4 linked regions of the Homo sapiens genome follow. The protein of the gene in region 4 interacts with the protein of the main gene of each other region in a pairwise test. Each region holds a gene or a part of one and is shown on either strand. Other genes may lie near its edges. The genes, in order: BTBD2, TFCP2, BTBD1 and PSMD5.

Region 1 (7,808 bases), on a different chromosome or scaffold from region 4:
GCCTCCCAAAGTGCTGGGATTCCAGGCGTGCGCCCCCGCACCCGGCCCCTTAGACTTTTCTGAATGTATTTTCTGTTCTCCAGCCTGTTATTGTGAGAACAGGAGGCTGGTGTGCATTGACCAAGTGTCCTCACAAGGCCTCCGGTCAGCGAGAAGCCATTCCTAGTTAAGTTCGTGGGAGTCAAAAGTTGTACTTGGATTTGAGCTGAGTGGGGGTCCACGCCCCTAACCCCGCATGTCGAGGGTCCGCTGTCCCAGGCCCGCCCACCTTACCTTGCTGCTATCTCCCGCTGGGCCTCATTGCCCTCTCCTGAGCCCCCCGGGGGCAGACCCCTCACCTACTTTTCTCCAAGGGGTCCTTGTCCTGCCTCCATCTTCCCCACTTTGCAACCGAGCCAGCGGTCCCTCAAGTGCAATCGCATACATGTCCCAAGGTCAGCCGGTGCCCGGGGCGCCCCACCTCCCCCCTCAAACAGAAAGCCTGGGATTCTCCAGCTGCACCTGCTGCTGGGTGAGTTCCAGCTGCATCCAACCTACCCCCTCCCCAAAGAGCACAAAGACCACCCAGGTGGAGGGAGCAAACCCACCGCCCCTCACTCCAAGCTAGGAGAGGCCCAGCAGCTAAGGACGACAGAGACAGGGACGGCGACACGGACGGCACAAGCCGTAGGAGGCCCCGGAACCCTCCAGGGGCAGGAACCTCTGCTAAGTACCGCCCAGGGCAGGACCCCACGAAAGGAGACCCAGCTGCCCATAAACACCCAGGAAGAAGCCAGAACACGTTAACAAAAGCACCCGAAGGTCAGAAGGGAGGGCAGGACCCTCCCCCTCCAGTGCCCGCAGCAAGAAAACCCAGCCCCTGCCCCCGACCAATGAGGGGCAGGGTAAGAGGGACCGGGGAGTGGAGGGAACCTGGGGCCTGGGGCCGGTACCCCGCACACTGGCAAAGACAGATACTGGGCCAAACCCACTTCTTTCCCAGAAAGGAGGGCTGGGGGCTGGGGAGGGAGGGACCCCGGAGCTGGGGGTCTCTGGGTTGGAAGGGCCCGGAGATGGGAGTCTGGGCAGGGGTCTAGGGTGGTGGCCTGGTGGCAGGGGATCATAGGATGGGGTGCAGGGGGTAGCAGGGCCCAGGGGAGACAACCTTCTGCAGAGTCCAGGGTCCAGAGCCTGGCAGTGGCGGAGCTGGAGGTGGGTGGTCACTGAAGTGGGAGGTGGCAGGGCCCAGGGGTCTCTGGCTGAGGTGGGGGTCCGGGGCTGGAGGGGCTGTGGATGGTAGTCTATGATCTGGACTGCAGGGCGGGCAGGGGGTATCCCTGGAGGGGAGCAGCATGGTTTGAAGGTCTCTGATCCAGATCATGTGCTGAGCCTGGGGGTCTCCGGTGGGGGTCACTGGGTCTGGAGGCAGCAGGGAGGACGCAGGGAGCAAGGCCTAGGGGTCTTGGCGCACAGGGGTGCGGGTGGGAGTGGCAGGGTCCCTGGATGGTGGGGGAAGAGGGAGGGGTCTTGTGGTCATGGGTGGGGGTGGAGGAAATAGCACGACCCCTGAAGGGAGGGGTCCTGGAGTTCAGGAGTCATAGGTTGGGGGTTACGGACTGAGGTGGTGAGGACTGGGGACGGGGGGTCTCAGGTGAGAGCGGAGAAGTCTCTCCATCCTGGGATGCAGGGGTGACACACTTGAGTGTAGTGGGGTCCCAGGGGGCCCCGGGAGTAGAGAGTGGAAGGGCAGTGGGCAGGGGTGAAGGACCTGGGGAAGGAGGGGTCCTGGAGAGTCCCTGGGTACAGGGACGGAGGGGTCACCAGTAGGGGTCCCAGGGGGAGAGGGGCGGCAGGCAAGGGTGCAGGGCCTGGGGATGGAGGGGTCCTGAGGATCCCCGGGTATAGGGATGGAGGGGTGTGGCATGTGGGGTCATGGGTCCTAGAAACAGTGGGTTGGGGTCCTGGGAATGGAGGAGCAGATAGGGGTACACGTCCCAGGGTTGGAGGGTCACAGGAGTCCCAGGGGTGGTGGGTGGGGGTGCAGGGCCAGGGCATGGAGGGGACCCAGGGATGCAGGCCAGGTGGGGTCCAGGGATGGAGGGGCCTGGGGTGTAGGCAGGGGTTCCAGCCGGAGGTGGAGGGGCCCAGGGATCTGGGGGCAGAGGTGTCTGGGGACCTGGGGTGCAGGGAGGGGTGAGGTCCAGGGATGGAGCGTCCTGGGGATGGAAGAATGGAGGGTCCTAGGGTGCAGGCGGGGGGTGGAGGGCCCTGAGGATGGGGTATTCAGGGTTCTGGGGTGCGGGCTGGGTGGGGTTTGAGGATGGAGGGGCCCAGGGGCTCCAAGTGCAGGCCGAGTTGGAGGGTCCCAGGAACGGAGGGTACCGGAGTGCAGGCTGGGTGGGTCCAGGGACGGAGGAGAGCAGGGGTCCCAGGGGTACAGGGCCTGGGATCCCGGGGAACAGGCTGGGGGCGCAAGCCAGAGGTGGAGGATCCAGGGGGGCCTGGGGATGGAGGGGTGCAGAGGCCCAGAGTGCAGGCCTGGTGGGGTCTGGGGACAGAGAGGTGCAGAGGCAGGGACAGAGGGGTGCAGAGCCCAGGGAACTGGGTGGAGTCTAGGGATGGAAGGGTGCAGGCCCCGGGGTGCAGGCCGGGTCGGTTTCAGGACCGGAGGGGTGCAGGGGTCCCAGGGACAGAGGGGTGCAGGGCCTCAGGTGCAGGCCCCGGGGTGCAGGCCGAGTTGGGTTCGGAGCCTGAGGATGCAGGGGTGCAGGGGTCCCGGGGACAGAGGGGTGCAGGGCTCGGGGATGGAGGGGTGCGGGGGTCTCGGGGACAGAGGGGTGCAGGGCCTCAGGTGCAGGGCCCGGGCAGCAGGCTGGGTGGGTCGGGGCCAGGGCTGGCGGGGTCGGGGCGCCCACCTGTGCGCGGGGATGCGCTGCGAGCTGAGCCCCTTGCCCACCAGGAAGTGCACGTCGCACAGCACCTCGTTGTTGAAGAGGAAGGCGAAGCGCTCCTGCACGGTGGGCTTGCTGGCCTGCCAGTTGTACGCGGCCTCGCGCTGCAGCGCCGCCGCCCCCGGGCCCGCCGCCTCCTCCGCCCGCTCCGCGCCCGCGGCCTGCGCGTCTGTCCCGGGGCCCGGCGGGGCGGGCGGCGTCGGCCCAGGGGCGGCGGCGGCGGCGGCGGCGGCGGCGGCGGCGGCGGCCGCGTTGCCGGGGGCCGGGGTGGCGGCGGCGTTGGCGCTGGGCCCGGGACTGCCCCCCGTGCCCGGGCCGACCCCGACCCCCGGCGGGCACGACGCACGCCCGCCGCTCCCACCCGCCGCCATTTTGTGGCTGCGGCGTGGGCGGGGGAGGGGAGGAGGGAAGGAGGGAGGGGAGGAGGGAAGGAGGGAGGGGAAAGGAGGAGAGTAGGGGGAGGAGGGGGAGGAGGGAGGGGAGGGGAAAAGAGGAGGGAGGGGAAAGGAGGGGAGGAGGGAGGGGAGGGGAAGCGGGAAGGAGGGAGGGGAGGAGAGGGAGGGGAAAGGAGGGGGAAGGAGGGAGGGGAGGAGAGGGAGGGGAAAGGAGGGGGAAGGAGGGAGGGGAGGAGAGGGAGGGGAAAGGAGGGGGAAGGAGGGAGGGGAGGAGAGGGAGGGGAAAGGAGGGGGAAGGAGGGAGGGGAGGAGAGGGAGGGGAAAGGAGGGGAGGTGGGAGGGGAGGAGGGAGGGGAGAAGGGAGGTGAATGGGGGAGGCTGTTGCAGGGGAGGGGACGGGGAGGAGAGGGAAGAGTAGGAGGGGCCTGTAGAGGGGAGGAGCTGGTGGAAGACCTCTTGCTCCACTCCCTAAGCATCCTGACCTGAAGCCCAGACTCCAGACCGAGGTCCAGAATTTGGGGTCCAGGCACCAGGCCCCAGACTCCAGACCGGGAATCCTAAACCCTGGAGCACAGACCTCAGTCCGGGATCCCAGGCCTCAGACCTTGAATCCTAGATCCCAGACTCTGAACCCCAGACTTCAGACTCCGGATTCCAGATCCCATACCTCAGACCCGGAACCCCCAACCCAAAGACCAAGCGCAAACTCCAGACCCCAGACCCCGGACCCAGGTGGCGGGCCTGCTCCGTGGCGCAGGCTCCGCTGTACAGAGACATAGCCTGAGGCCGGGAAGCTGCGGATGAGCGAGCAGGATGCAGGCCACGTGCACTGACACTCAGCAGACGCCCAGCACCCTCTCCAGGCCAGGTGTGGGGGGTGGTCAGTGTGGACGGAGCTGGGACTCCCCCAAAACGCTTACTACATACATAATGTCAAGGTAGACAAATGCCACAAAGATTGAGGAACCAGGTCGGGCGCAGTGGCTCACGCCTGTAATCCCAGCACTTCAGGAGGCCAAGGCGGGGGGTGCATCACCTAAGGTCAAGAGTTGGAGACCAGCCTGGGCAACATGGCAAAACCCTGTCTCTACAAAAAATACAAAAATTAGCCAGGCGCGGTGGCTCACGTCTGTAATCCCAGCACTTTGGGAGGCCGAGGCGGGCGGATCACCAGGTCGGGAGATCGAGACCATCCTGGTGAAACCCCATCATGGTGAAACCCCATCTCTACTAAAAATACGAAAATTAGCCAGGCTTGGTGGCGGGTGCCTGTAATCCCAGCTACTCGGGAGGCTGAGGCAGGAGAATCACTTGAACCTGGGAGGCGGAGGTTGCAGTGAGCCGAGACCGCGCCATTGCACTCCAGCCTGAACAACAAGAACAAAACTCCGTCTCAAACAAACAAACAAACAAACAAAACAAAACAAAAAAAAAACTAGGCGTGGTGGTACGCACCTGTTGTCCCAGCTACTCAGAAGGCTGAGACGGAAGCATCACTTGAGCCTGGAAGGTTGAGCTTTTGATGAGCTATGACTCCACCACTGCCCTCCAGCCTGGGCAACAGAGCAAGATCCTGTCTCGAAAAAAAAAAAAAACAAAGAAGAAAAAGAAAATAGGGTATTAAAAAAACCCAAGTGATAATGCTATTTTCAGTTCTCCAGAGTGGGTGGTTGAGGTAGTTACAATTTTTTTTTCTTTTTTCTTTTTTCTTTTTAGAGTCTCCCTCTATTGCCCAGGCTGGGGTGCAGTGATGGCGATCTTGGCTCACTGCAATCTCAGCCTCCTGGTTCAAGCAATTCTCCCGCCTCAGCCTCCTGAGTAGCTGGGGTTACAGGTACCCGCCACCACGCCTGGCTAAGGCTAATTTTTTTTTGTTTGTTTGTTTTGTTTTTGAGACAGTCTCGTTCTGTCGCCCAGGCTGGAGTGCAGTGGCGCGATCTTGGCTCACTGTAAGCTCCGCCTCCCAGATTCACGCCATTCTCCTGCCTCAGCCTCCCGAGTAGCTGGAACTACAGGCGCCTGCCACCATGCCTGGCTAATTTTATATGTGTGTGTGTGTATGTATATACATATATATATATATATATATATTTTTTTTTTTTTTTTTTTTTTTTTTTGAGACAGTCTTGCTCTGTCGCCCAGGCTGGAGTGCAGTGGCACGATCTCAGCTCACCACAACCTCCGCCTCCCGGATTCAAGCGATTCTCCTGCCTCAGCCTCCTGAGTAGCTGGGATTACATGCACCACCACGCCCGGCTAATTTTGTATTTTTAGTAGAGACGGGGTTTCTCCATGTTGGTCAGGCTGGTCTCGAACTCCCGACCTCAGGTGATCCGCCTGCCTTGGCCTCCCCAAGTGCTGGGATTACAGGCGGGAGCCATCACAGCCGGCCTCTAAATGTCAACTTTCTTATCTCTCATCTCATACATTTGCAAAGTGACATCTTTCCAGCCAAATCCTAAAGAGGACATCTGTGCAGTCCCTTCTAGATGAAGGTGCAGAACAGGCATACCTGCCATGGTGACAGAAATTAACAAAATGGTAGGTTGTCTGAGGAAAGGGTGAACTTTACGGAATGCTGAGATGTTCACGATTTTTTTTTTTTTTTTTTTTTTTTTTTTTTTTGAGATGGAGTCTCGTTCTGCCACCCAGGCCAGAGTGCAGTGGTGCAATCTCGGCTCACTGTAAGCTCTGCCTTCCAGGTTCATGCCATTCTCCTGCCTCAGCCCCCCGAGTAGCTGGGACTACAGGCGCCTGCCACCATGCCCGGCTAATTTTTTTTTTTTTTTTGTATTTTTAGTAGAGTCGGGGTTTCATCGTGTTAGCCAGGATGGTCTCTATCTCCTGACCTCGTGATCCGCCCACCTCGGCCTCCTAAAGTGCTGGGATTACAGATGTGAGCCACCGCGCCTGGACTTTTTTTTTTTTAAAGAGCTGTAGGCCAGCCATGGTAGCTCACGCCTGTAATCCCAGCACTTTCGGAGGCCGAGGCAGGCAGATTACTTGAGTTCAGGAGTTCGAGACCAGCCTGGCCAACATAGTGAAACCCTGTCTCCACAAAAAAATACAAAATTAACAAGGTGTTCTGGTGTGTGCCGGTAGTCCCAGCTTTTGGGAGGCTGAAGTGGGAGGATGGCTACAGCTGGGGAGGCTGAGATTGTGCCACTGCACTCCAGCCTGGGCGACAAAGTGAGGCCCTGCCTAACACACACGCACGCGTGCGCGCACACACAGGCACACACACACACGGGATCTCACTTTGTCGCCCAGGCTGCTCATGAACTCCTAGGCTCAAGCAATCTTCTCGCTAGGCCTCCCAAAACGCTGGGATTACAGGTGTGAACCACTCGGCCATGTGGAGATTTTTTTTTTTTTTTTTTTTTTCTTGAGACAGAGTCTTGCTCTGTCGCCCAAGCTGGAGTGCAGTGGCGCGATCTCGGCTCACTGCAAGCTCTGCCTCCCGGGTTAACACCATTCTTCTGCCTCAGCCTCCCAAGTAGCTGGGACTACAGGCGCCTGCCACCACGCCCGGCTAATTTTTTTGTATTTTTAGTAGAGACGGAGTTTCACCGTGTTAGCCAGGATGGTCTCGATCTCCTGACCTCCTGATCTGCCCATCTTGGCCTCCCAAAATACTGGGATTACAGGCGGGAGCCACCGCACCCGGCCCATGTGATTTTGAGAGGGGTGTGAGTGATACAGGTTCATGCATTTGCCTAAATTAACCAAACTACGCTTAAGATTTGTGCATTCGCTGTAAGTAAACCATACCTCTCACTAGACCTAAACATATTACGGATGGAGATTATCTATGAAGGCAGAAACATGAGTCCACCTCAGCCCTAGGGCTGGCAAGGGAAGCTTGCGGAGCCTTTTTGTCCTTTGTCAGTGCTTTTTTTTTTTTTTTTTTTTTTTTTTTTTTTTTTGCTGGCTATTGAGCCAACACCTGCCCCTGGCAGTGCGTTTTGAGCGTTTTTGAGTTTTCCCCGGGTTTCTGGAACCAATCCCAGCCCTGTCTATGCGGTGATGGCGTCTAGAGGGCGCTCGTCACCAAGCTGATTGCTGGATTTCCATTCATTTCCAGAGAAGTGTGCAGTTCACATAATAGAACCATCCTTGGCCAGGAGGGTGGGATGTCATTTCTTCCCTCCCACGGTCCCCTTTCCTCTTCTCTGACTCCAGGACACTCAGGCTGGCTGGCTTTCTTTCTTTGGCTGGCTTGCTTTCTTTCTTGTTCCTTTCTTTCTTTCTTTTTTCCTTCCTTCCTTCCTTCCTTCCTTCTTTTTTCTGCAAAGTCTCGCTCTATCTTCCAGGGCTGGACTGCAATGGTGCGGTCACAGCTCACTGCAGCCTCCACCTCCTGGGCTCAAGTGATCCTCCCGCCTCAGCCTCCTGAGTAGCTGGGACCACAGGCGCGCACCACCATGACTAATTTTTTTTTTTTTAAAGAGTCTCTCGCGGCCAGGCGTGGTGGCTCACACCT
Region 2 (7,907 bases), on a different chromosome or scaffold from region 4:
TGTCACCCAGCCTGGAGTGCAGCAATGCAATCATGGCTCACTGCAGCCTCGATTTCCTGGGCTCAAGCCATCCTCCTGCCTAGATCCCTGAGCAGCTGGGACTACAGGCACGCACCACCACGCCCGCCTAATTTTGTACTTTTTGTAGAGGCGGGGTTTTGCCGTGTTCCCCTGGCTGGTCTCAAACTCCTGAGCTCAAGCAATCCTTCTGACTCGCCTTCCTAAAGTGCTGGGATTACAGATGTGAGCCACCGTGCCTGGTCATATTTGTTTTTGTCTACATCATAAGGGATGTTGAATCTTGGAAAATTTTAAGGAAGGAAGTGAAATCAGGGGTTGATGACTTGTGGAAAAATAATTGATCTTTCATTTTTTCAAGCATATTATCTAAAGGGTGTTTAGAAATTGGAAGGAGTAAGATGATCAGATCAAGAGGTAGTTGAATACCTTTCTCTAAGAAGAACAGAGAAAGGACTTAGGCTAGTTAGGAGAAGGTAATGAGAGAAATAAGATGATCTAGTTTACTGTGTTGGCATTTTTTAGTAAAAAGTATATCTTGAACCTGACCCATTAGACGGTGGCTTTTATATTTTGACTATTTCTAACTTTTACACCAAAGGCCACAAACTCAAATGACTATAGAGTACATACAGGTAATGTAAGTGAATGGCAGTCAAGACTGGGGTATAGTGAAGAATATATGCATCATGTAAGAAGAACGGCTGATTGTTTTCATGTGAGAATGCAGGCCTAAGATTGCTAGATCTGAGTCTTCAGGAAAAGCCAAAAGTTCAGAGGTTTATATGATGTCTCATATTGGAACTAATTCCACTTAAGGAAAAAAAAAACCCTACTACTGGGGAACTAATAAAACATAGCAAATTAATTGCATTTGGCCAATGAGCTTCCAATTTTCATCTGCTCTATACGATTAATGTAGAAACACAATTTCTCCCTTCTTTTTATTGTGCTTACCATAAAGAATGTAAGACTAATTAGCCTTTTTCCTCCCCTTAGGATGGTGCGTCCAAGGTTAACCATTTATGTTTGTCAGGAATCACTGCAGTTGAGGGAGCAGCAACAACAGCAGCAGCAACAGCAGCAGAAGCATGAGGATGGAGACTCAAATGGTACTTTCTTCGGTAGGTTGTTCTGGACACACTAGGACAGATATGAAGAAAGGTGAAGAGATAACTTATGGGCATGTGTGATGGGAAACTATCAAACAGCAGATTTAGTATTTGCTAGAAGTAACAATAATCACTAGCATTTATTAAGTTCCTAATACATGGCAGGTGCCATTCTTTTTTTTTTTTTTTGAGACAGAGTCTCACTCAGTTACCCAGGCTGAAGTACAGTGGCACAATCATGACTCATTGCAGCCTTGACCACCTGGGCTCAAGTGATTCTCTCCCCTCAGCCTACCGAGTAGCTAGAACTAAAGCTACTCATTTGCCTAATTGTTTTATTTATTGTAGAGATGGGATCTCCCTATGTTGCCCAGGCTGGTCTTGAACTCCTGGGCTCAAGCGATCTCCCTGCCTCAGCCTCCCAAATTGCTGGGACTATAGGTGTAAACCACTACACCCAGCCAGGTACTATTCTTAACACTTTTTATATGCTTTAATATTTACAACTAATATCTCCTCTTTGCGGAGGATTTTACTGTTATCTCCGGTATTTATGCAAGAAAAATCAGGCCTAGGAATGTTAAATAACTTGCCCTAGGTCACACAGCTGCAAGTGGTTGAGCCAGGATTTGAACTTAGGCAGTGTGATTTCTGAGTCCTTCAGAAAAGTGGGCATTCCTAGTGATCAAGTTACCTGTAAGAGTGGACAAACTTTGTACTGACTGCTGTTGCTCTCTCCCTTTTGCAGTTTACCATGCTATCTATCTAGAAGAACTAACAGCTGTTGAATTGACAGAAAAAATTGCTCAGCTTTTCAGCATTTCCCCTTGCCAGATCAGCCAGATTTACAAGCAGGGGCCAACAGGAATTCATGTGCTCATCAGTGATGAGGTAGATTTTTCAGTACAGTTGAATTACCAGATGATGATTAATTTGTCAGCGCATGGAGCAAGAGCAGTTCTCCTGGGGCAGAGTGTTCTGTTTTCTAGATCAGAGGGTTTCATACTTTTTTGCTTGCTTTCCTCCTAATTTTTTTTTTTTTTGAAACAGTCTCTCTCTGTTGCCCAGGCCGGAGTGCAGTGGCCCAATCTCAGGTCACTGCGACCTCCTCCTCCTGGATTCAAGTGATTCTCCTGTCTCAGCTTCCCGAATAGTGGGAATTACAGGCGTGCGCCACCACGCCTGGCTAATTTTTGTATTTTTAGTAGAGATGGGGTTTTGCCATGTTGGCCAGGTTGGTCTCAAACTCCTGGCCTCAAGTGATCCACCCGCCTCGGCCTCCCAAAGTGGTGGGATTCCAGATGTGAGCCACTGCGCCTGGTCCTAAAATATTTTAAAAACCACATATTCCCATGCACATTTTTAGGTTGACTTAAAATTTTTTGTTAAAGTTTAAATAGTTGTAAAAGATGTCATTTCTGGGCATATATAATGACATTTTTAAGTGAAATGGTTACATCATTATTCTAATTGCATCCCATGTAACCTTAATACAAAAATGATTTAATACCACCACCATCCATTAAAAAAAAATACATGATTGTGCTTTTCTTTAACAGTTAGAATTCTTATACTATTCCTCTGTTTCCTTGAACTCTTATTTTCATTTACTTCCCCCGGTGAATTTTATCTTACTGTAACTTTTTTTTTTTGAGACAGAGTCTCACTCTGTCGCCCAGGCTGTTGTGCGGTGGTGTGATCTCGGCTCACTGCAACCCCGCCTCCTAGGTTCAAGCAATTCTCCTGCCTCAGCCTCCCAAGTAGCTGGTATTACAGGCACCCACCACCATGCCTGGCTAATTTTTGTATTTTTAGTAGAGGCTGGGTTTCACCATGTGGCCAGTCTGGTCTCGAACTCCTGGCCTCAAGTGATCAACCCGCCTCAGCCTCCCGAAGTGCTGGGATTACAGATGTGAACCACCACGCCTGGCCATCTTACCATAACATATTTTTATGCACAAACATCTTTTATTGATTATCCTACTATATTTGTTTGAAATAAAGTTTTTAAATAAAAATTTAAAAATTATTATAATGGAATTATCATAATTATACAATTGATTAAAATAATGTAAATATGCTACATGTTTTAATAAGTAATTATTAAAGATTAAGAAGGCTGCCCAGGCGCAATGGCTCATGCCTGTAAACCCAGCACTTTGGGAGGCTGAGACGGGTGGATCACAAGGTCAGAAGTTCAAGACCATCGTGTCCAAGATGGTGAAACCCCATCTCTACTAAAAATACAAAAATTAGCTGGGCATGATGGCAGGTGCCTATAATCCCAGCTACTTGGGAGGCTGAGGCAGAGAACTGCTTGAACCCGAGAGGCAGAGGTTGCGGTGAGCCAAGATTGCGCCACCGCACTCCAGCCTAGGCGACAGAGCGAGACTTCATCCAAAAAAAGAAAAAAAGAAGGCCAGGCACAGTGGCTCACACCTGTAATCCCAGCACTTTGGGAGGCCGAGGCAAGCAGATCACCTGAGGTCAGGAGTTTGACCAACATAGAGAAACCCTGTCTCTACTAAAATACAAAATTAGCCGGGTGTGGTGGCACGTGCCTATAATCCCACCTACTCAGGAGGCTGAGGCAGGAGAATCCCTTGAACCCAGGAGGCGGAGGTTGCGTGAGCCGAGATGGGGGCATTGCGCTCCAGCCTGGGCAACAAGAGCAAAACTCTGTCTCAGAAAAAAAAAAAAAAATTAAGAAAAAATTATTACAGGTATATCTATGAATGAGTTCGATGAAATTGTTTCGTTCCCTACCTGTACCCTTGCACATAATTATTTCCTTTGTAGCTGAATACTGCCTATTGATTGCTAGAATGACACAGGATTTCAGCATCAATTCCATTCTGTTTTTTTCCTCTAGATATAAATGCTGAGGGACTTGATTCCCATAAATTGATAGGAATGGATGGAATTTTGTAATGACAATGTCATTAGATTATACTTCAGAATTATATACCAGAAATTACATAGTGATATTACCAAAAAATCATTTTGAATCCTCTGTCTTACGACAATTTGTGATTAGGTTACTCTTTAATTCTGGTGAAAGGAAAGAGTTAGAAACCATGTGGCTCATAAAAGGGTCTATTGCTCAGTTATTAGCGTTCACCTTCGCCATTCCACTTTGCCACCTGAAGCTTTCACATCATGGGCCACCTTATTAGGATCCTGGGAGGGTGAAACTCATGCCTTTATCTTGGGAGAAGGGAGTTTATCCCTGGGAGAAGGGAGTTTGAGAAGGGAAAGTGGGGAAGGAAAATTAAAGAGGTTTTAGGAAAGAGCACATATGGGAGTTGAAGACACGGAAGTCAGTTCTCCTGTATGCACATATTTGTGTCCGTGTGCTCCTTGGAGAGTCTTGGGGTTAACCCAGGGAAATGCATACCAGGCTTTAAAACAACTCTTCCAATCTGCTTAGTTTTTTAATATTTAAAAACCAAATGGGAGGGGAGGAAAAAACTTTTATGATCCTAGATATTCAAGAAATACATTATTTGTGACCTGTAAAGCCTCCCATATAAATCCCTCTGGATGTGGGGTAGTCCTTAGGGACACAGGAATATAAAGGGGTTGTTTTTCATTTAAATAATCACAAATTTTCTTGCATTTTTCAGATGATACAGAACTTTCAGGAAGAAGCATGTTTTATTCTGGACACAATGAAAGGTAATAGTAAGACAAACATCTTTCTCTAAGCAGTTTAACAGCTTTACTACTACTAGGCAAAGTACATACTTCTTTGAGGAGAGATAGGAAAAGTAACCATATTTGGGTAAAGAAAGTGACAATATTAGAGATTGTTCCTTTTTTTAAGTTGGCTTTTTTTTTTTTTTTTTTTTTTGAAACAGAGTCTCGATCTGTTGCCCAGGCTGGAGTGCAGTGGCATGATCTCGGCTCACTACAACCTTCGCTTCCCAAGTTCAAGTGATTCTCCTCCCTCTGCCTCCCAAGTAGCTGGGATTACAGGCACGTGCCACCATGTCTGGCTAATTTTTGTATTTTTAGTAGAGATGGGTTTCACCTTGTTGGCCAGGCTGGTCTCGAACTCCTGACCTCAAGCGATCCACCCACCTTGGCCTCCCAAAGTGCTGGGATTACAGACATGAGCCACTGTGCCTGGCCCAGCTTTTTGCCATTCTCTTCCATCTTCCATTACAGATGAGGAAATTGAGGCATGTTGTTTTTATAATGCATTTTTTTTGAGACAGAATTTCGCTCTTGTTGCCCAAGCTGGAGTCCAGTGGCGTGATCTCAGCTCACTGCAACCTCCACCTCCCTTTTCTCCCCTTCTCACGAGAATCTTACCATACTTTTTTTCTCCTGCTGTGTTTTAGAGGTGACTAAAGATGATTCTCTCTCTCTCTTTTTTTTAACAGCAGAAACCAATGATAGCTATCATATCATACTGAAGTAGGAGTGCGGCGTTTCGTGCCCAGTGGCTGCTCCTTCCTTCACCTCTGAAAACGGCCCTCTTGAAGGGGGATATGAATGGAGATTTGAAGGTCTGCAAGAACCTGACTCGTCTGACTGTGTGTGGAGGAGTCCAGGCCATGGAGGCAGAATCCTGGCCCTCTGTGTTGGCCCAAGCTCTTGTGGTACACACAGATTACTGCCCAATATGCAGTTCTGCAGCTGTTTTAGTTAAATTTCTGGACCTTGTTGTTGTTAAATATCAGTAGAAACTCTACATAATTTAGAGTGTATGTAGGGCATAATGATGATGGGAATTGTGTGATGTTTAACAGGAAGATCTTAAATTTTGTGATATGGAGCCCTGTAATTTTTTTCTTATATAAAAATGGGTATCTATATTCATAAGACTAGGTCTTCAATCTCTTTGTACTGGTCTCAAATGTACTGGTATCTCTGCTTTTTGCCACAGTTTGTCCCTGAAAACTTTATCAGTGAGGAGAAATACAGAATTTTCCTTTTGGTTCCCCTGTAATACCACAACTAATAGTATTTTCAGCTAACATTTATTGACCAGGCAGTGTGATAAATTTTTTGAATGACCATCTTGTTTAACCCCCTAATCACACTATCTGAAGTAGGTGCTATAGTGACCCCCAACCGAAGATGAGGAAATGGAGACACACAGTGGCTAAGTAGCTTGCTAGGTGCCAGGAGCTGGCAGGCAGTGATGCTGAAATCCAAACCAGGCAATCTGGCCCTCCTTATTCACCCTCTCATACCACCAGTGCTACCCATTATAACCTGTGTTCACTTCGCTTATTACTGTGGCCCTTCTGGTGACTACAACATAACACTGAGTATGAACTGAGGAATTAACCACTGAAAGAGACAAAGCACACCTAAATAATGATGAACAAATCAAGACCTACAAGAAATGAACACATAGATGCTTTTTAAGTGTCATTAGTTATCGGAATCAAAGAATTTGAGGTGGTGACAACTGGGGATTATCTGTAACTCCCCAAATTTACTGTTCTTGAATGACATTCTCAAACTATTTATTAATGAGTTAGTCTCATCCCTGCTTTCTGTTTCCTCTCTCTGCATCTTCTCTTGGCATAGGAAGTTATTTTACTCATGCTATGTTTTTTAATAGAAGCTTTACAAAAAAAGATGCATTCCCTTCCTGTTCACACTCTTACCATGTTTTTGTTCTTCCTTAAGAATGATTGTGTGTGTGTGTGTGTGTGTGTGTAAGTGTGTAAGTGTAACATCATGGGTTTTCTTTCTTCACTTGTAAAGTTTTATCTAGAAATACTTTTACAGGTTATGTTGAGGTACACAAAGATAATGTTCTAAGATTGTGTATTGGATTTGGATTTGTGTGTGTGTGTGTGTGTGTGTGTGTTTAAAGCATTTGATAAGGTTTAAATGTTTTTTATACAGAGATTTTTGTTCATTAAACTCAATCTGCATCATGGTCTAATTTCTCTTGGTTTGAAACAAATTGAAAACTTTGAAACCAAAAAATTAAGTCAATGACTTGTTTAAAACTGACCTGAGCAACTTGTTATATTACACCAAAATGCTTCTTAGTGAATGATTACCAGGTGTCTCCATTTTGAGGAGGAGACGTATCTGGTTGTCTTATATTCCTAGTACTGGTTCTCAACCTCAGTTCTTTCCTCAGCAGGCTGCTATTGGTTTGGATTTTTTTTTTTTTTTTTTTTTTTTTTTTTATGTCTAGGTGTTTGGGTAGGAAAGTTGGACTAGATGCCTTTTTCTTTTTTTTTTTTTTTAATATAGAAATGAGTCTGGGCACCGTGGCTTATGCCTGTAATCCCAACAATTTGGGAGGCTGAGGCAAGCAGATCACTTGAGGCCTGGAGATTAAGACCAGCCTGGCCAACATGGTGAAACCCTGTCTCTACTAAAAATACAAAATTAGCTGGGCGTGGTGGCACACACCTGTAATCCCAGCTACTTGGGAGTCTAAGACATGAGAATTGCTTAAACCTGGGAGGTGGGGTTGCAATGAGTTGAGATCAGGCTGCTGCACTCCAGGCTGGGTGACAGAGCAAGACTGTCTCAAAAAAATTTTTTTTAATAAAATAAAATATAGAAATGAGGTCTCACTGTGTTGCCTGCCAGGTTGGTCTTGAACTCCTGGGCTCAAGTGATCCCCCGTCTCATCTTCCAAAGTGCTGGGAGTACAGGTGTGAGCCACCGTGCCTGGCCAAGACTAGGTGACTTTTTTGTTTTGAGACGGAGTCTCACTCTGTTGCCCAGGCTGGAGTTAAATGGCCTGATCTCAGCTCACTTGCAACCTCTGCCTCCCGGGTTCAAGCAATT
Region 3 (7,927 bases), on a different chromosome or scaffold from region 4:
TTTGCAGAGATGGTCAGTAATGTTTTAGATAAGCAATCCATCACAGTTAAATTTCTGAGGAGTATTTACTTATATTTTTATTTTATGTTTTCATCCATCCATCCACCCACCCACCCACCCACCCAGCCATCCATTCATCTATCCATCCATCCATCCATCCATCCATCGACAGGGTCTTGATCGATTCCAGGCTGGAGTGCATGGCTCACTGCAGCTTCAACCTCTCTGGCTCAAGCCATCCTCCCACCTCAGCTCCCTAAGTAGCTGGCACTACAAGTTTGCACTATCACACCTGGCTAATTTTTTATTTTTTGTAGAGACAGGTTTCACCATATTGCCCAGACTGGTCTTGAACTCCTAGGCTCAAGCTATCCTCCCACCTCAGCCTCAACTGTATCACCCTCATAATGCTCACTTGACATTATGTAGCAAACTCTGTGATGAATACAGGGAATTAAAAGCTAAGTAAGGCACAGTCCCTCATGGCCAAAGAGAGGGGAATGAATAAAACCAGAGAGAAAGCTACCATTTGTTGAGTGTCTGCCGTATGACAAATGCCAATTCATTTAATCCTCTCACATAGAAGGAAGGTGCTATTCCCTGCATTTTAATAAGAAAACCAAGGCTGAGGAAACAGGAGAGCTGTTTACCATAACACACCATTTCAGGGCTTCTGACTGTTTTCAGTGCCATACAGTAAGGCCAAGAGGAAATAGACTGCTTGGGTTTGAGCTTGTTTTGTCACTTGCTAGCCATGTGACTTATTATCAATGCCTGCCTCTCTAAAAAGATGAGAATAAGAGCACCTACTTCATAATGTGGTTGTGAGGATTAACATAAATTAAAACACAAAGCATTTTGAATAACGCCTGACAAAAAAAATTGCCTCAGTAAATATTAGCTATTTATCTGTATGTTGTCTCATATTTTTTATCATTATTTCCCTCTGCATTTTGGAAGATTTCCTTGCCATTATCTTCTGGTGCCTTCCTATTTTTCTCTACAGCAATCACATTTAAATTTCTAAGAATGCTTGCTTCTTTCTTGATCGTTCCTTTTTTCTCCACAGCACCATGTGCTGGTTTTATGAACGCAAAAACTTTCTGAAGTCTCCAAGATGACATTAACCAAAGTTTTAAAAGTTCTCGTCTGTTTCCTTGAGGATCCGCTGTTGTGTTTCTCTTGGTCTCTGTCATTCACGTTCTGCTTTTCCTTATATGTCAGATGATTAAACTCCGTCTCCAACTTCACTATTCTAAGCAGCTGGTCTGTTTTCAAGATAATACTATCTCCAAAACAGAAATGTTGGCTGGGAGCTCTGTGTATGTGGGAGGCTTGCTGACTGGCACCTGGCATTAGAGTGGGAAGCCAGCCCTAGGGCAGGGACCCCTCAAAGCCATTGGAAGAGAGCTTAACCCTGGGGTCCCAAAGCCATACCCAGCAGTCCCAGTTCTTCTCAGGCAGTTTGTTCAATTTATCTCAAAAAGCCTGTCCATTGTCATGGACAGCTGGCTAAGGGGATGGTCTATACACAGGCTTTAAATTAATTTCCATGTTTTAGCACTACCTTCTCATTTCCACCCTCCTTACTTCCAACTGCTAGCCAAGAACTTTGTTGGGGTTCTGCCAGGAAAGGCGCTCCAGCTCCGCTGCGGCTTTGAAAGCTCTGGATTCTGGGCTCCAGATTCATCTACTCTAGTTCATCCATCAATCAGCTTCCAACTTCTCTGTCCCTTTCTACTCTGTTGGCCCTTCCAACCTCTCTTTTTCTCTTCATTGTAATGGACTTACTATTTTTTAAAAATTTCTTAATAGTCATTTTAATTGAGAGAGAGAGAATGCTAACAGCATGCTCAATTCCCTTCTTAAACTAGAAAACTATGAAATTTTTGTTTTAGGCCAGGCACGGTGGCTCATGCCTGTCATCCCAGCTATCTGGGAGGTTGAGGCAGGAGACTCACTTGAATCTGGGAGGTGGAGGCTGCAGGGAGCGGAGATCGCAACACTGCACTCTAGCCCGGCCAACAAAGTGAGACTTAAAAAAATTTTTTTTTAATTAAAAAAAAAAAGAAATTTTTGTTTGAAGGACAAGGTAGCAGTCTAGAAGTCTTTACATGCCTGCCTTGATGTATTTTTGTCAGGTAAAAATTACTAGAGTTGTAAAACAGAGCAGCAATGTGAGGCCTTTATCACCATTTGCCCTTGATTAGATTCACACTTAACAGGACAAGTGCCGCAAACCTATACATGGTTCTATGAGAATCTATAAATGCGGGCTTTGACTTAGGAAGATGTGGAAAAGGTTTGTAGAGAAATTTCTGCTTGAGATTAGATCTAAAGATTAAAAGGACGGTGGGAAGTACACTCCAGGAACAAGAGAGAATCAAGTTTGTAGATTATTTTGTGTGAGATCTCCCATTCAAATTGCTTTTATCAAATTATACTTCAGTAATATACTTTTGCTTTCTATCAAGGAACATTTTTTAAAACAAGTATGTATCTGAAGACACAGACTGAAGACACTTCATTACAGCAATGTCTTCTGTATGAGGGGATCTCATCAGGATTTTTTTAAAAACTCATCTAATTATCAGATTTGTGCATCTCCTAAGCAGTTGCCTTGTTTTTAATCTATAAATAATTACGTCCACCCAGGTTTCTCTTTTTGCACTAGCTGCTCAGATAATTAAAACAAAGTTGGCCGGGCATGGTGGCTCACGCCTGTAATCCCAGCACTTTGGGAGGCAAAGGCAGGTGGATCACCTGAGGTCAGGAGTTCAAGATCAGCCTGCCCAACCTGGTGAAACCCCGACTCTACTAAAAACACAAAAATTAGCCGGCATGGTGGCGGGCGCCTGTAATCCCAGCTACTCAGGAGGCTGAGGCAGGAGAATCACTTGAACCCGGGCAGCAGGGGTTGCAGTTAGCTGAGATCACGCCATTGTACTCCAGCCTGGGCGACAGAGCAAGACTCCGTCTCAAAAACAACAACAACAACAACAACAAAAGTTTATAGCTTATACATTTTGTTTGTTTTTGAGACAGGGTCTCATTGTCACTCCGGGTGGAGAGTGGTGGCACGATCATAGCTCACTGTATCCTGAAATTCCTGGGCTCAGGTGAATCTCCTGCTTCAGCCTCCAGAGTAACTAACACTACAGGCACATGCCACTAGGCTCAGCTCATTTTTTTTTATGCTTTATGTTTTTGTAGAGACAGGTCTTGCTATATTTCCCAGGCTAGTTTCAAACTCCTGGCCTCAAGCAATCCTCCCGCCTCAGCCTCCCCAAGTGCTGGGATTATAGGCCTGAGCCACTGTACCCAGCTTGACAGCATACATTTTTCTATTAGCTTCACCCTTGACTCTAGTTTATTTCTTACCCTTGTGTTTCTTATAAGACATTTTAAGTTCTTTTGGGTGCACTGCAAATTAAAAATAAATACTGGACAATAAACAGTAAGAAAAGGATCTCTGTGTATCTTATATTTTTAATTTATTTCTTAAACAGTACCAGGCACATTATGGGCATGTGTTTAAGTCTCAATAAATACACGTTAATTGACTAGACAATTCAGCACAGGTTTCTATGTAACGTCAAAAGGGAAAATATTTTCATTTCTAATAAAAAAAGTTACTTAAAAATCCAAGAATCCTCTTGATTCATATGTATACATTTCCTTTACATTCTATTTAATTATTAGAGTTTTTATAATATTTAAAAAAAAACTAAGCCAAGGTTTTTAAAATGTAAAGATTAAACATGACATTACCACAATTCTTCGTATTTTAAAGTGATCATTTAAGCTCTCATATACAACCTCTAAGGACGAGAGCACAGAAAAATTATTACATGTCCTCAAATTAGTCCTATTTTCCCCCCAAATTAATAATTTTCAAAAAAAAAAAAAAACAACTTAGGTTATATTTAATCTAACTAAAAATTTAAAGCCGGGCACGGTAGCTCACACCTGTAATCCCAGCACTTTGGGAGGCCGAGGCAGGCGGATCACCTGGGGTCAGGAGTTTGAGACCAGCCTGGCCAATATGGTAAAACCCCATCTCTACTAAAAATACAAAAATTAGCCAGGCGTGGTGGCACACACCTGTAATCCCAGCTATTCGGGAGGCTAAGCCAGGAGAATTGCTTGAACCCAGCAAGCGGAGATTGGGTAAGCCAAGATCGCGCCACTGTACTCCAGCCTGGGCGACAGAGTGAAACTCTATCTCAAAAAATAAAATAAAATAAAATAAAGTAAATTTTAAAAGCCTAAGGTGAATACTTGATTTTATATAAGAATGATCACAAGATATGTGTAAGAAACTTTGTATCACTACTTATCTGTTCATTTTACTCAAAAACATTTATTGAGGGACTATATAGCAGGCACTGTAATAGTGCTAGAGATAAAAATATGGGTAAGATAGCTTTGCCCATAAAAACCTTACACAGTCAGTCATGCATTACTTAAAGATGGAGATACATTCTAAGAAAGGCATTGTTCGGCAATTTCATCATCATGCAAACATCATAGACTGCACTCACATAAATCTCAATGGTATAGCCTACTACGCACCTAAGCTATGTGGTATAGACTATTGCTTCAGGGCTACAAACCAGTACAGGATGTTACTGTACTGAATACTATAGGCAACTTTAAAACAATGGTGAGTATTGTGTATCTAAACATGGAAAATGCACAGTAAAAATACCGTATTATAATCTTATGGGTCCACCATCTTATTTGCAGTCCACTGTTCACCAAAATGCCATTATGCAGCACGCAACTATAGTCTGGTACTGAAATGATTAAAAAGTAATGTCCTAATAACAGAAGTATATATTAGGCACTCATATCTAATAACTAATCTCTAATGATGGCCCCAAGAAATCATACTTTCTTGTGTTCATGTCCTTACATAGATCTGTCCCATGATGAATCTGGGTTGTCCCTGTGTGAGCCCCTTGAACCAACAGATTGTGGCAGAGTGACATTGCACCAGTCTGAGACCTACACCTTAAGGATGCCTGGCAGCTCCTGCTTTTGTGTTCCTCGGAGTCATGAGCCACGAAGTCAAGCTACCCTGCTGGAGAGACCAGCTGAAGAAGCCTCTTGAAGAGGACCTGAGACTTAAGGCTCAGCCATCCCAGACTGTGAGTTAAACCTCCAGATGAGTCCAACCCCACCTGCTATCTGACTACAGCTACATAGACGACAAACCACCTAAGTGATTCCAGTCAACCCACACAACTGTAAAAGATAATAAAAGTTGTTTAAGTCACTACGCATTCCAGTGATTTGTTCCACAGCAACAGATAACCAAAACATGCTGTGAGAGATTAATTAGATGAGCCAGTGTGCAATTTTGCCTGTGGGTGGAATTTTTACAGAGGAAGTAAAGCCTGAAGATTATCTGAAGAGTAGTAATTAAGTGTGGAGCCCTGGCAGAAAGACTGAGGAGTACAAAGGTAAGGAGGCCTTAGAAGCAGGCACTAAAACAAGAAAAAGGCCATTAGTAATTAGGGTTGAAACACTGAGTGGATGGAGAGGAGATGAAGAAAGAGAGATCAAATCACAAAGGTTTCATGTACCTGCTAAAGTGTTTAAACATCCTGTAGGTAAAAAGAAGTCATTAAAAGATTCAGGGGAATTATATGACCATATACCAATATTGGAGAGATCACTGTTAACAGGATGAATGGAGAGAGTTAAGTCTAAACGCAGTAGTTTGGTTGAAGCAATGCAGAAAAAAATGGAGAGGCAGGTAAAATTTTCAGGAATGGTCTAAAATGGACAAGAAATGTGTAGAATGGAGTGAAACGAAACTACAATTTGGAGCTAGGCCCATGAAGTCATTTCCTAGCTGACCTACAGAATCATAAGCAAGAATAAATTATTGCTTTTTGGGGGTTGCTTTATTTATAGCATTAATATGGCAAAAGCTATTGCAGGGGGATAAGAAGTATGCCTGTCTCAAAGGATTTTCCTGAAATTTAAGTGAGATCACAAAGGGGCTTAGGAACAATCTATGGCACACAGTAAAAGTACTCATTAAATGTCAGATATTTTCATTAATAACATGTCCATCTGCATGGGTATAAAACATTACTTCACGATGGTCCAGTTGGAAATGAGGGTCTGGAGCTAAGTAGAGCTTTGGAGACACATGTGGGGGAATGAGTGCGTAAAGCTCTCACTTTGGTTGATGGGAGAAAGGATGAGAGCTGAGGACTGAATACTGAAGAACACTTACCTCGTGCCCCTTCCAGCCATCACGTCATTCTCTGTTCCCCTTTGCAACAAAACTCCTGAGAGGACTGTTTATACTGTCTCCAGCTCCTCACTTCCCATTTTCTGCCTAACCTACTCTAATCAGCTGAAATCACTCTTGGCAGGGTTATCGATAGCTTCCACCTTGTCAAGATTAAAAATCAACTCAAAGTCTTCATTATACCTGACTCTCAATAGCATTGAGCATAACTGACCACTTTCCACTTTCCATAGTTGACATTTCCCACTTCTTCTTTCTTGAAATGTTTTGACTTGACTTTCAGAATATAATGCTCCTTCTTTCTCTTCTAATTCCACTGACAGCTGCTTCTCAGTTTCATTTTATGCTTTTTCTCTGCTACATCTCTACATATTTGAAGATTCCAGAGCTCATCCTTGTACCTCTCTTCACAGTCTACATGCCTTCCTAGGTAATCTCACTTGATCTCTCGATTTAAATACCATTCACTCTTAACTTGCAAATTTATGTTCAGCAAGCTGTTCCCTCACCTCCAAATTCATATTTCTGTCTACTCTATGACACTACTTGGATGTCTTGGAAGTCCTCTTGGTTGTACCTTCAAAAATATATCCAGAATTTGACCATGTCTCATCATGTCCTTTGCTACCTCCCTGGTACAAGGTACAATTCACCATCGCCTCTTGCCTGGACTACTGCAAAAGCCTCTTCATCTATCACCTTGCTGCCTATTTTACTCCAACCACTGCCAGAAAGAGTTTGTTTTTTTAAAATGTAAATCAGATCACAACCTCCTGCCACCACCTCCGCCTCCCCAATCTCATTCAAAACTCTCCAAAGGCTTTCCATCAAATACCAGCTGAAAAAGTCTTCGCTCAGTCTCTAAAGCCCTGCACCATCCTGTCTGGCCTATCTTTTTGACCTCATTTTCTACCACTTCCCTCTACTGTGCTTAAGGCACACTGGTTCACTCTTGTGTTCCTCCAACAGGAGATACTTAGTGCCGAAAACAATGCGTTCCCTTGCTGAGAATGTTCCTTCTCTCATAACTTGATTATTTTTCTTCAAAACATTCATCAGTACTTGACATTGTATCTTTAGTTTCCCTTTACTAGATTATGTGCTTCATGAGGGCAAGGACTTTTTCTTGTTTATTGCTGTGTCCCAAACACCTACAACAGCCATTCGCTGTTTCACAAGCGCCCCAAAAGGGAGGCATATAGTATTTGTCAAACAACTGAAGAACATCATTTAAAGGTCAGGCAGTTCAAAGTGCACAGTTTCTTTAAGGGCTTCAAACTTAAGTTCATGAGCCTGTAAGTAATGTTAACTAATTCAGGATGTTTACAAGTATGCCCAAACTAACCTGCTCTTCCAACTTAGCAAGTACTATCAGGCATCTTTTTGTCACGTATTAGCTAACAACAACATCTACGTTACACAGCCAGCCAAAATTAAATTTAGAAATCAGTCCAGATATCAATTTCAAAATAGAACAATGACCAGAACCTGAAGGATAAATACAATGCTAGGAAAATAAAACACACTGAAAATGTAAAAATGAAAAAAAAGTTTAAAAATGTAAAAAATGTTTTACAATGTGAAAAAAAAAATTGCACTGTCCTACATTTCAAACACTCTAAAATTAACTTACTTTCTATTGATGGGAAAGCACTA
Region 4 (8,919 bases):
TAATGTTAACTGATAGACATCATGAATGGAGAACACTTACAGAAAAGGAAGGAATCTTAGAAGGTCAGAGCCAAGAAAGCGCTCTGAAATCATCCACTGTTGATTCAGTGGTTCATAATCTTTTCAAGTAGTAAGGTCACTTGAAAGTCTTTGATCACAAACATTTCAAAACTCTTTTAAATGATCAAATTATCAAATACAAAGTGGTTTTTTTTTCCTTTTTTTCCCCAGAATCCAGGTAAGAATTATAAAATGTTTTTTTAATCTTTTTTTTTTTTTTTTTTTTTTTAGACAGAGTCTTGGCTGGGCGCAGTGGCTCATGCCTGTAATCCCAGCACTTTGGGAGGCCGAGGCAGGCAAGGCAGATCACTTGAGGTCAGGAGTTCGACACCAGCCTGGCCAACATGGTGAAACTGCATCTCTATTAAAAACACAAAAAATTAGCTGGGCGTTGTGGTGGTGGCACGTGCCTATAGTCCCAGCTACTCAGGAGGCTGAGGCAGGAGAATTGCTTCAACCTGGGAGGCGAGGTTACAGTGAGCTTACATCCTGCCACTGCACTCCAGCCTGGGCAACAGAACGAGAACCCGTCTCAAAAAAAAAAAAAAAAAAAAAAGGGCCTCACTCTGTCACCCAGGCTGGAGTGCAGTGGTGCAATCTTGGCTCACTGCAACCTCTGCCTCCTGGGCTCAAGGGATCCTCCCCCTCAGCCCTCTAAGTAGCTGGGACTATAGGCACGCACGCCCAGTTAATTTTTTGTTTTGTTTTGTAGAGACAGGGTTTCACCATGTTGCTCAGGCTGGTCTCAAACTCCAAAGCTCAAGCGATCCACCCGCCTCAGCCTCCCAAAGTGTTAGGATTACACGTGTGAGCCACTGCTCCCGGTCTACAAAGTGTTTTTATTATTATTATTATATTATTATTATTATCTTGAGATGGAGTCTCACTGTGTTGCCAGGCTGGAGTGCAGTGGTGCAATCTTGGCTCACTGCAACCTCCACCTCTCAGGTTCAAGTGATTGTCCTGCCTCAGCCTCCCAACTAGCTGGGACTACAGGTGTGCGCTACCAAGCCCAGCTAATTTTTGCTTTTTTTTTTTTTTTTTTGAGACGGAATCTCACTCTGTTGCCCAGGCTGAAGTGCAGTGGAGCGATCTCGTCTCACCGCAACCTCTGCCTCCCAGGTTCAAGAGATTCTCCTGCCTCAGCCTCCAGAGTAGCTGGGACTACAGGCACGTGCCACCATGCCCGGCTAATTTTTGTATTTTTAGTAGAGACAGGGTTTCACTATGTTGGCCGGGTTGGTCTCGAACTCTTGACCTTGTGATCCACCCGCCTCGGCCTCCCAAAGTGCTGGGATTACAGGCGTGAGCCACCGTGCCTGGCCTAACTTTTGTATTTTTAGTAGAGACGGAGTTTCACCATGTTGGCCAGGATGGTCTCGATCTCTTGACCTGGTGATCTGCCCGCCTCAGCCTCCCAAAGTGTTGGGAATACAGGCGTGAGCCACTGCACCGGGCCTACAAAGTGTTTTTAATCAAACACTACGGATGTGTAAAAAATCAAAAATAAAAGTTGTCCTACTATTTTCAGACCCACTTCCCTATTAATAGTTTCTGGTGTACCTTTGCAGATATTTGCAATGTTATACAAGTTTTACATGCCTGTGGGGGTTGGGAAGATTGTAATCCTTTTTAAAAATTACAGGTTAAAATTATAGATTGATATACCCTGCGATTTTCTTTTTCATTCAACAACACAGAGATTGGCCGGGCGCAGTGGCTCACGCCTGTAATCCCAGCACTTTGGGAGGCCGAGGCGGGCGGATCACGAGGTCCGTAGATCGAGACCATCCTGGCTAACATGGTGAAACCCCGTCTCTACTAAAAATACAAAAAATTAGCCGGGCGTGGTGGCGGGCGCCTGTAGTCCCAGGTACTCGGCAGGCTGAGGCAGGAGAATGGCGTGAATCAGGGAGGCGGAGGTTGCAGTGAGCCGAGATCGCGCCACTGCACTCCAACCTGGGAGACAGAGCGAGACTCGTCTGAAAACAAACAAACAAACAAAACAAAACAAAACAAAACACAGAGATCTTTCCATGTCCACATACATATATATACATCTACCTCAATAACTTAAATAACTGCACAGTGTTACAGAGTAATAGCGCATAATTTGGAATCCTCTGTTAACGGATATTTAGATTGTTTCTAGTGTTCTGGTGCCACACACGATATGTTATATTCTTGCATATAATGTTGTAGGGTCCTCCAGTCGCCCCCTTTCTTTCTCTGTCCTGATGGAAAATCAGAGTGCCTTGATTGCTCTCTGACCTAGCCAGCGGCAGGTTTCCCTAGCAGGCTTGACCATAAACCAGGGGCCTTGAACATTCACAGGCCTGATAAAGGTACCTAGGTTGTTGCCCAAAACACTGGAAGAAACTGGCCTCAACCCTGAGCCAAATTCCTTTAAACTCTCATCTGAACTCCATACCCTGACCCCCTCACTGCGGACATACCCAGGAACACCTTTCTCCCGGTGTCCGTCTTGACAATTTCTGCAGCCCTCTGCAGGTTTCCCCCTAAACGCTTTTGGACTGATCGCCTTGGCATTCAGTGCTTCTTTTTCTGTCATCCCAACCAGCCACATCTCGGGAAGGTTTGAAGCACTCCCTCGTGGGAACTCTCTTGCCGCTGCTTTTGGGGCGATTCCAGCCTCGGGTTCGAAAGAACAAAGTAACTGCACATTTTGTGCGCGTATACTTGCATTAAATTTTTTTAACAAGAATGACTGGATGAAAAAGCATGTGAATTTAAAATGCTGATGGTTCTTGCCACATTGCCAGGATAGGATCCTTTTAGAAGGGGAAACAAATCAAGAACCTGTACAAAGAGATGTGGAATGCTCCTTGTAAGTGGACAGCTTTGCTTTCCTCCTTTAATTTCTATTTGATGAAGAAGGCAGTGCCTCACTGCTCAGAGGCAGCGAGGCCAGGCGACGGGAGAAAACACCCTGGGGCACTCTCAGAGGCTGAACCTGAACCCCATCTCCTGCCTCTGAACCCAGGATCCTTCCTTCTCTGCAAATTTCGGCTACTTTCCACCTCCCCTGTGACTGGGAAAAGCGCTGTTCTTGCCCTCAACCACTCTCATGTCCATATTTAGGGGTGCCCCTCTCCTCGGCTCAAGCCCCCGGGGTCCTCTCACCTATGGTTCTCGTTAAGCAGGGAGAAGAGCGGGCCGAGGCGCAGCTCCGCCGCTTGCTGGCGAAGCTCGTTGAGCGGCACTGCCTGCAGCACGGAGTGAAGCGCGCGTAGCTCCTCCAGCGGCGCTTCCAGCCTCGCTACCTCTCTCAGCAGCGCCAAAGCCTGGGCTGCCATCTTGCCCCCCGACGCAGGGGCTGGCCCAGCGGCCCAGTTCCCGGGGCGCTTTCCTGAACCTCGCGAGATCTGATCACAGCCTCCTTGTCCCTGAGATGGCTATGGGGCTGCCAAGCCTCGCGAGAAGCCTCCGTTAGGGCCGTGTCAACTGTAGCCAGTGGTTGCGGCTCCCTCAGTCTGGCGTCATCTAGGTCGCTGCTCAGGGAAATGCGGAGGCCAGTAGGCTTACGTGTTTACCGCGTAGGGCAAAGCCTTGCCAAATTCCCGGCCAGCGGAGCGGCGAGGGTGGGGACTCACGGGAAGTTAAACAGCCTCGTCGGCGTCCTCGAGGCTCCAAAACCAGGCTCTAGGCGGGGACGACTGCAGCCGTTATGGAGGCCACCGCGGCTACGGCCGCGGCTGAGGCCTCCCCAGGTGGAGCGGTGGCCTGGAGGGGAATCTTGATCCTGGGCCAGCCACCTGTCAAGAGGAGGCGGAGCGTCATGCCTCTGGAAGACTGGATGAATATTCTCCAGGAGCCTGACGAAGGCGTGAGTAATAGGGACGTGCGCCGCCTTGTTGGTGTTGATCAGTCCACCAAGGAGAAGCAGCTGGTCGCAGTGGCCGTACCTGTAATCCCAGCGCTTTGGGAGGCCGCGGCGGGAGGATCGCTTGAGCCCGGGAGTTCGAGACCAGCCTGGGCAACATAGTGAGAAACCCGTCTCTACCAAAAAGAAAAAAAAAAAAAAAGGAAAAAAATTAGTGCGGTGTGGTGGCACGCACCTGTAGTCCCAGCTACTCGGGAGGCTGAAGCGGGAGGGTCCCCTAAGTCTAGGAGGTCGAGGCTTCAGTGAGCGGTGATTGTGCCACTGCACTCCAGCCTGGGCGACAGAGCAAGACCCTGCTTTCCCCTCTTGTCCTCCACTACCCTCAGGAAACCAAGAAAGACCAGCGTGGAGAGTTGGTCGCCCATCTGCTCTAAGCTGCTGTGTATTCCCCTGTAATGTAAACATCGTGAAGGTGGAGACCCAGTTAACCTTTTAGGTGGAAGGCCAGATGACAGAGGGCGGCATCTGACCCGGAAGGCCCTCTGCAACCAGGCCAAATACATCTACAGGGAACCAATGGGAAACATCTGGGGAGGACAACCCAAATAAGTATCATGCGAGCAAGGGATGGTTTGAGAACTTTAAAAATCGCTGCTGTTTTGCAACATACGAAGTTGATGGGGAGGAAGGACCCTTAAATCCTGAGTGGGTATCGAGTATTCCAAGCAACTGGAGAGAGGCTTTGTGCCTCAACAGGTCTTCAACGCCAAGGAGATGACCCATCTTTTGCAGTGCATGCCTTCCTACTTTTGGGGCAAAAGACAAAAATCTGGAAAGCTTAGAGGAAGCTAAGGACAGGATTTCCCTCATTTTTTTGTGGCAGTGCCTCAGGTGACAAAATGATAAAACCACTGCTGCTTTACAAAGACTCTAACACCCCACTTGTCTTTTAGAGATAAACGCCTTCCTGTTTTCTTGTAATCACACCCAGAATCACCACTGCCACTTTTTGGATTAGTTTTACAATTTTTTTATCCATCAAATCCGAAGTCATTTAACAAAAAAAATCTGGAAATCAGAATGTTGCTAACTGTGGACAGAGGTCCCAATCACCCAGATTCATTATTCTTTGTTCATTCTAATGTTGATACTGTGTTTCTCCCTCAGGAAGGCCCTAGCTTTCTTCAGCCCTTGGGTCAGGGTATAACTGAAGCATTTGAACATAATCAAGCATATGTTTGACCACTTTGCTGACTGTATTGAAAAAACCCTCACCTTACTCTGAAAGAAGCATGGCAACAGTACAATATTGCCGATGCTTTGGTAGTGATAAAAGAGGTGATGGGTGATATAAAATCAGCCACTCTTAAGCTTGCTGGAAACTGTGGGAGGATGTGTGAATGATGCATATTTCCCTAGAGCTAATGAAGAAGTTAAAAAAAATCTTAGTGTCTGCAAAACAGGTGGGTTTAAGATTTATTGATATTAGGGAAAGTGAAATTAATGAGCTACTCAAGTTTCTGTCTTTGGTCATCACTGAGAGTCTATTTCCATAGGAAGAAGTCTTTGCAGAGGAAATTGAATGCTGTCTGATGCTACAATTCATATGGATCCTTTCCTGGATTGAAGCCTGACTTTTAAAAAAGGTTTCAATAAATTGCTTATACCTATGAAGAGATGCAAAAGAACCTTCAAAATAAAGCAAAGGACTTGAAGAAAGAGAAGGAAGACATGAAGAAGAGGATGTCATTTAGGTGAAGGTGATGGATACAGAATCTGAGTCTGAGGGGAGCCTGGTTGACAGAGAGACAAAAAAAGAAATTTTTTTTTTCTGACTAAAAAAAAAAAGGAAATTTTGTTAACAAAATCAAGAATTTAAAAAAAATGCTGTGAGAGCTGATCTATGCATCTGGTTTGTGAGCCAGTATTCTGTGATGGCTGCAGTTTTTAGAGATCCTAGTAGCTCTACACATCTGTCTTCTGCTTTCCTAGAACCTGGGCACCCCATGGATGACTCACTGCTGGTTTTGTGTGTGTGTGTGTGTGATTTAAAATTACATTCAGTCAACTCTATAGCCCTATGGGCTTTTTGAATAACCAAATGCTCAACAGTTCTGTAATCTTTCAGGTTGCTGTGATCAGTCCCCAAGGAGTCTACACTCTCAAAGAGACTGGGAAAGGCCTGTGAGACAATGGGATTCTTTTTTCTAGAGGTGTAACTCTGCCTGTGTTTGCATGCCACCTCCAGAACCACTAAAATATAATTTCTCAGTGGGTGACTGAGTAAGACTGGCAGCAATTGCAAAAGCAGATTCATGCCATGTGTCACTCTTCACAGTCAGGAACTTATTTACCTCTTGGAACTTTCCAAAGGAACGATGATGGTGGCGGTAATGTCACATTAGTATGGAGCCCTTAAATTCAGCAGTGTTCAACCTGAGGGAAGACAGAGTAGGTCAATTCTCTTGGCAGCAGCTGAGGGAAGGAGAGAGCAGGGAGCAGGGCTCAGATAAGGTTTGTTTGGCAGGGTCCAAGCACTTCATGGAATGGAGACCTTTGGCTGTCAGAGATCTGAGGAAGATTTGTCAGGGCCTGCTACACTCTGAGGGCTTGCAGTTTGGATGGTTGGGAACACTTCTTCCTTGCACTGATGGTGCTCCTATTTCTATGACACGTGTACTAGTTCAGACACAATTTATTGTGTTCACCAATTCTATGCACAGCAATCAGACTGAGATTGAAATCCAGTATAATATTAAAGGTGATCTGGGCCAGGCGCAGTGGCTCATACTTGTAATCCCAGCACTTTGGGACGCTGAGTTAGGGGGATCACTTGAGGCCAGGAGTTTGGGACCAGCCTGGGCCAGAAAATGAGACCCCATCTGTAAAAAAAAATTTTTTTTAGGTTAGCCAGGCATGGTGGTGCATGCTTGTAGTCCTAGCTACTTGGGACACTAAAGTGGGAGGATTGCATGAGCCCAGGAGTTCGAGGCTGTAGTGAGCTAAGATTGTGCCTCTGCACTCCAGCCTGGGTGACAGAGCAAGACTCTGTCTCTAAAACACACACACAAACAACATCTGACAAGGCATTTCAGCCTGGAGTCAGTCAAAAAATCTTAGAGGTCTGTAAAGGAGATGACTATGCTGTTAGGGCTGTGGTAGAAACCTTTAATAACAAGTGAAAAGAGCTTGTATTTGCCAAAATGAACACAGGATATGATTCTTTTTTTGCTTTTGCTTTGGAGTTGTATCAGCTCTGTGCGGTCACATGGGTATCTACAAATCAAAGCACCCATCAACCAGATGCATCTCTGAGAGTTAACAGCAGAAGGTGGCATAATAAAAGAAGTTCTCGGTAGTGAAAAAGGTTGGAAACCACCAGCTAAACCAATCCTCTTGTACCAATAGGAGATTCAAGTTGAGAGGTGGGAAAGGGCCTATCTCAGAGTAGGTGCTTGAATACTTCTTACTAGAATGAAAGAAGGAACTTAAGATCACACAGCCATGTTACTGCAGGACGGGGAATGGAACCTAGGTCTTCTTATTTTTGGTTCAGTGTTAACTCCCATTCTCTAAGCAGACTGGGCCTGTTATTCAAACTGCCTTCCCATAGGTGCTTCCCTGCTTCTCTCCTCACCCAGAGAAGGACTTACAAACAGCTTATCTTCAGAGGTTTTGTGCCTGATAGTTATGGAATGTGCTGGTTTGAGCAGGGAGGATGTAAGGGGAGGGAATGCTAAAAGCCTGTCTACTTAGAGTCAGGTTTCCTGGGTAAGTCCCTGGAACCCCATCCCCTTCCCCTTTCTTGAGACCCCAGGACTTGCTCCAGTAACTGCCACCCTGTGCCTTTGCTTCAGGGCCATGCTGGATAAGGAGCTGGCTGCCTCTGTGAACATCCTACTCAAGGCATCTTCACTGTGAGTTTTGCTGTTGCCATTGGAGGGGGAGTGGGGGGAGTGTGGGGAGTGCTAGGGTCAGGTCCTGGCTGGTGTAAAGAACACTGAATTAAAGGAATTGTCAGAATAACTCAAAGGCATTTAGATAATCAACAGTCCATTTCAGTGTTTTTATTCAGAGATCGATCGATCAGTGGGATGTTGTCCAACAAAAGCAAAAATAGACTGTATAGAGAAGGAAGGAAAAACTGCATAATTTAGGAACAGTATATCTTGTTTGCACATTCTTTGGTTAAATCAATTAGCCTGCTGTTAGGAAGGAAGTCTGGGCATTTTATCCTTGAGTAAACCAACTAGGGATATCAGAGAAAACAGTTTCCAATGCTTTTGGATTCTCCAGAAAACAGACAGTTTAGCATATATGACAGGCTGCTTCTGCGTATTGTCTACCTTTCATTTCATTAACAACTTCACTTTAGAAGCCTGGTCTGCACCATTTCCCTCATCACAATACTTTAGCATCCTGGCACTAGCTGTGCAGGATTTGTCGTACGTCTTCCTTTCCCTGATGATCATGTTTCTCATTTCCTTCCCTCTCTCCCTTACACCCTCAAAAGAGAGAGACATAATATACATTCTCAAGGTCATATAAGCTATATAATGAAAGCTACCTTTTTCTCCCCAGTGATGTTATTTCCTCAGTGGCTCACACCATCTGTAGTCATAGTTCCCAAATTTGGCCATGCGGTCTATCCCTGAACTCCAGCCTCAATCTATTCAATTAGTCGCCCTGAGGATGGGGCCCAGGTCTCTGAATTTTTAAAGACTTGTATAGATAAGTCACATTTAGCCAGTCTGGGAACCAGTGTTGGGAAATTGAATAGAATTTCATCCTACTATTTCCTTTATATGCCCATCCTTTCTCGTGATGTATTATTTTGCCACAGTCCTGTGACACAGGAAGGGCCAGTGGCCTTGGTCATCTTAGATTTGCCCTTGTTGATCTTCTCAGGGTAAATGTCTTTCCTTTCCCCTGATGGTGTTCTTATACTGTCTTCTGATCATCATTTCTGACTTTGTTTTCAGCATCTAAAAGTTTCCATAACTATAAGGCTTACT

Evidence for each region.
Region 1: the proteins of PSMD5 (region 4) and BTBD2 interact in binary tests that used the Homo sapiens proteins (3 or more experiments, as listed by UniProt).
Region 2: the proteins of PSMD5 (region 4) and TFCP2 interact in binary tests that used the Homo sapiens proteins (3 or more experiments, as listed by UniProt).
Region 3: the proteins of PSMD5 (region 4) and BTBD1 interact in binary tests that used the Homo sapiens proteins (3 or more experiments, as listed by UniProt).

Annotation. Positions count from the first base shown.
Region 1 is NC_000019.10:2,012,403-2,020,210, forward strand, and holds the start of BTBD2 (BTB/POZ domain-containing protein 2), read right to left. Parts: upstream 3,313-7,808; 5' UTR 3,302-3,312; coding exon 2,895-3,301; intron 1,317-2,894; exon of another isoform or gene 1,145-1,316; intron 1-1,144.
Region 2 is NC_000012.12:51,092,890-51,100,796, reverse strand, and holds the end of TFCP2 (alpha-globin transcription factor CP2), read left to right. Parts: intron 1-1,017; coding exon 1,018-1,142; intron 1,143-1,878; coding exon 1,879-2,021; intron 2,022-4,756; coding exon 4,757-4,808; intron 4,809-5,518; coding exon 5,519-5,556; 3' UTR 5,557-7,141; downstream 7,142-7,907.
Region 3 is NC_000015.10:83,056,565-83,064,491, forward strand, and holds part of BTBD1 (BTB/POZ domain-containing protein 1), read right to left. Parts: intron 5,282-7,927; exon of another isoform or gene 4,923-5,281; intron 1-4,922.
Region 4 is NC_000009.12:120,839,533-120,848,451, forward strand, and holds the start of PSMD5 (26S proteasome non-ATPase regulatory subunit 5), read right to left. Parts: upstream 3,391-8,919; 5' UTR 3,378-3,390; coding exon 3,205-3,377; intron 1-3,204. UniProt on the Homo sapiens protein: Acts as a chaperone during the assembly of the 26S proteasome, specifically of the base subcomplex of the PA700/19S regulatory complex (RC).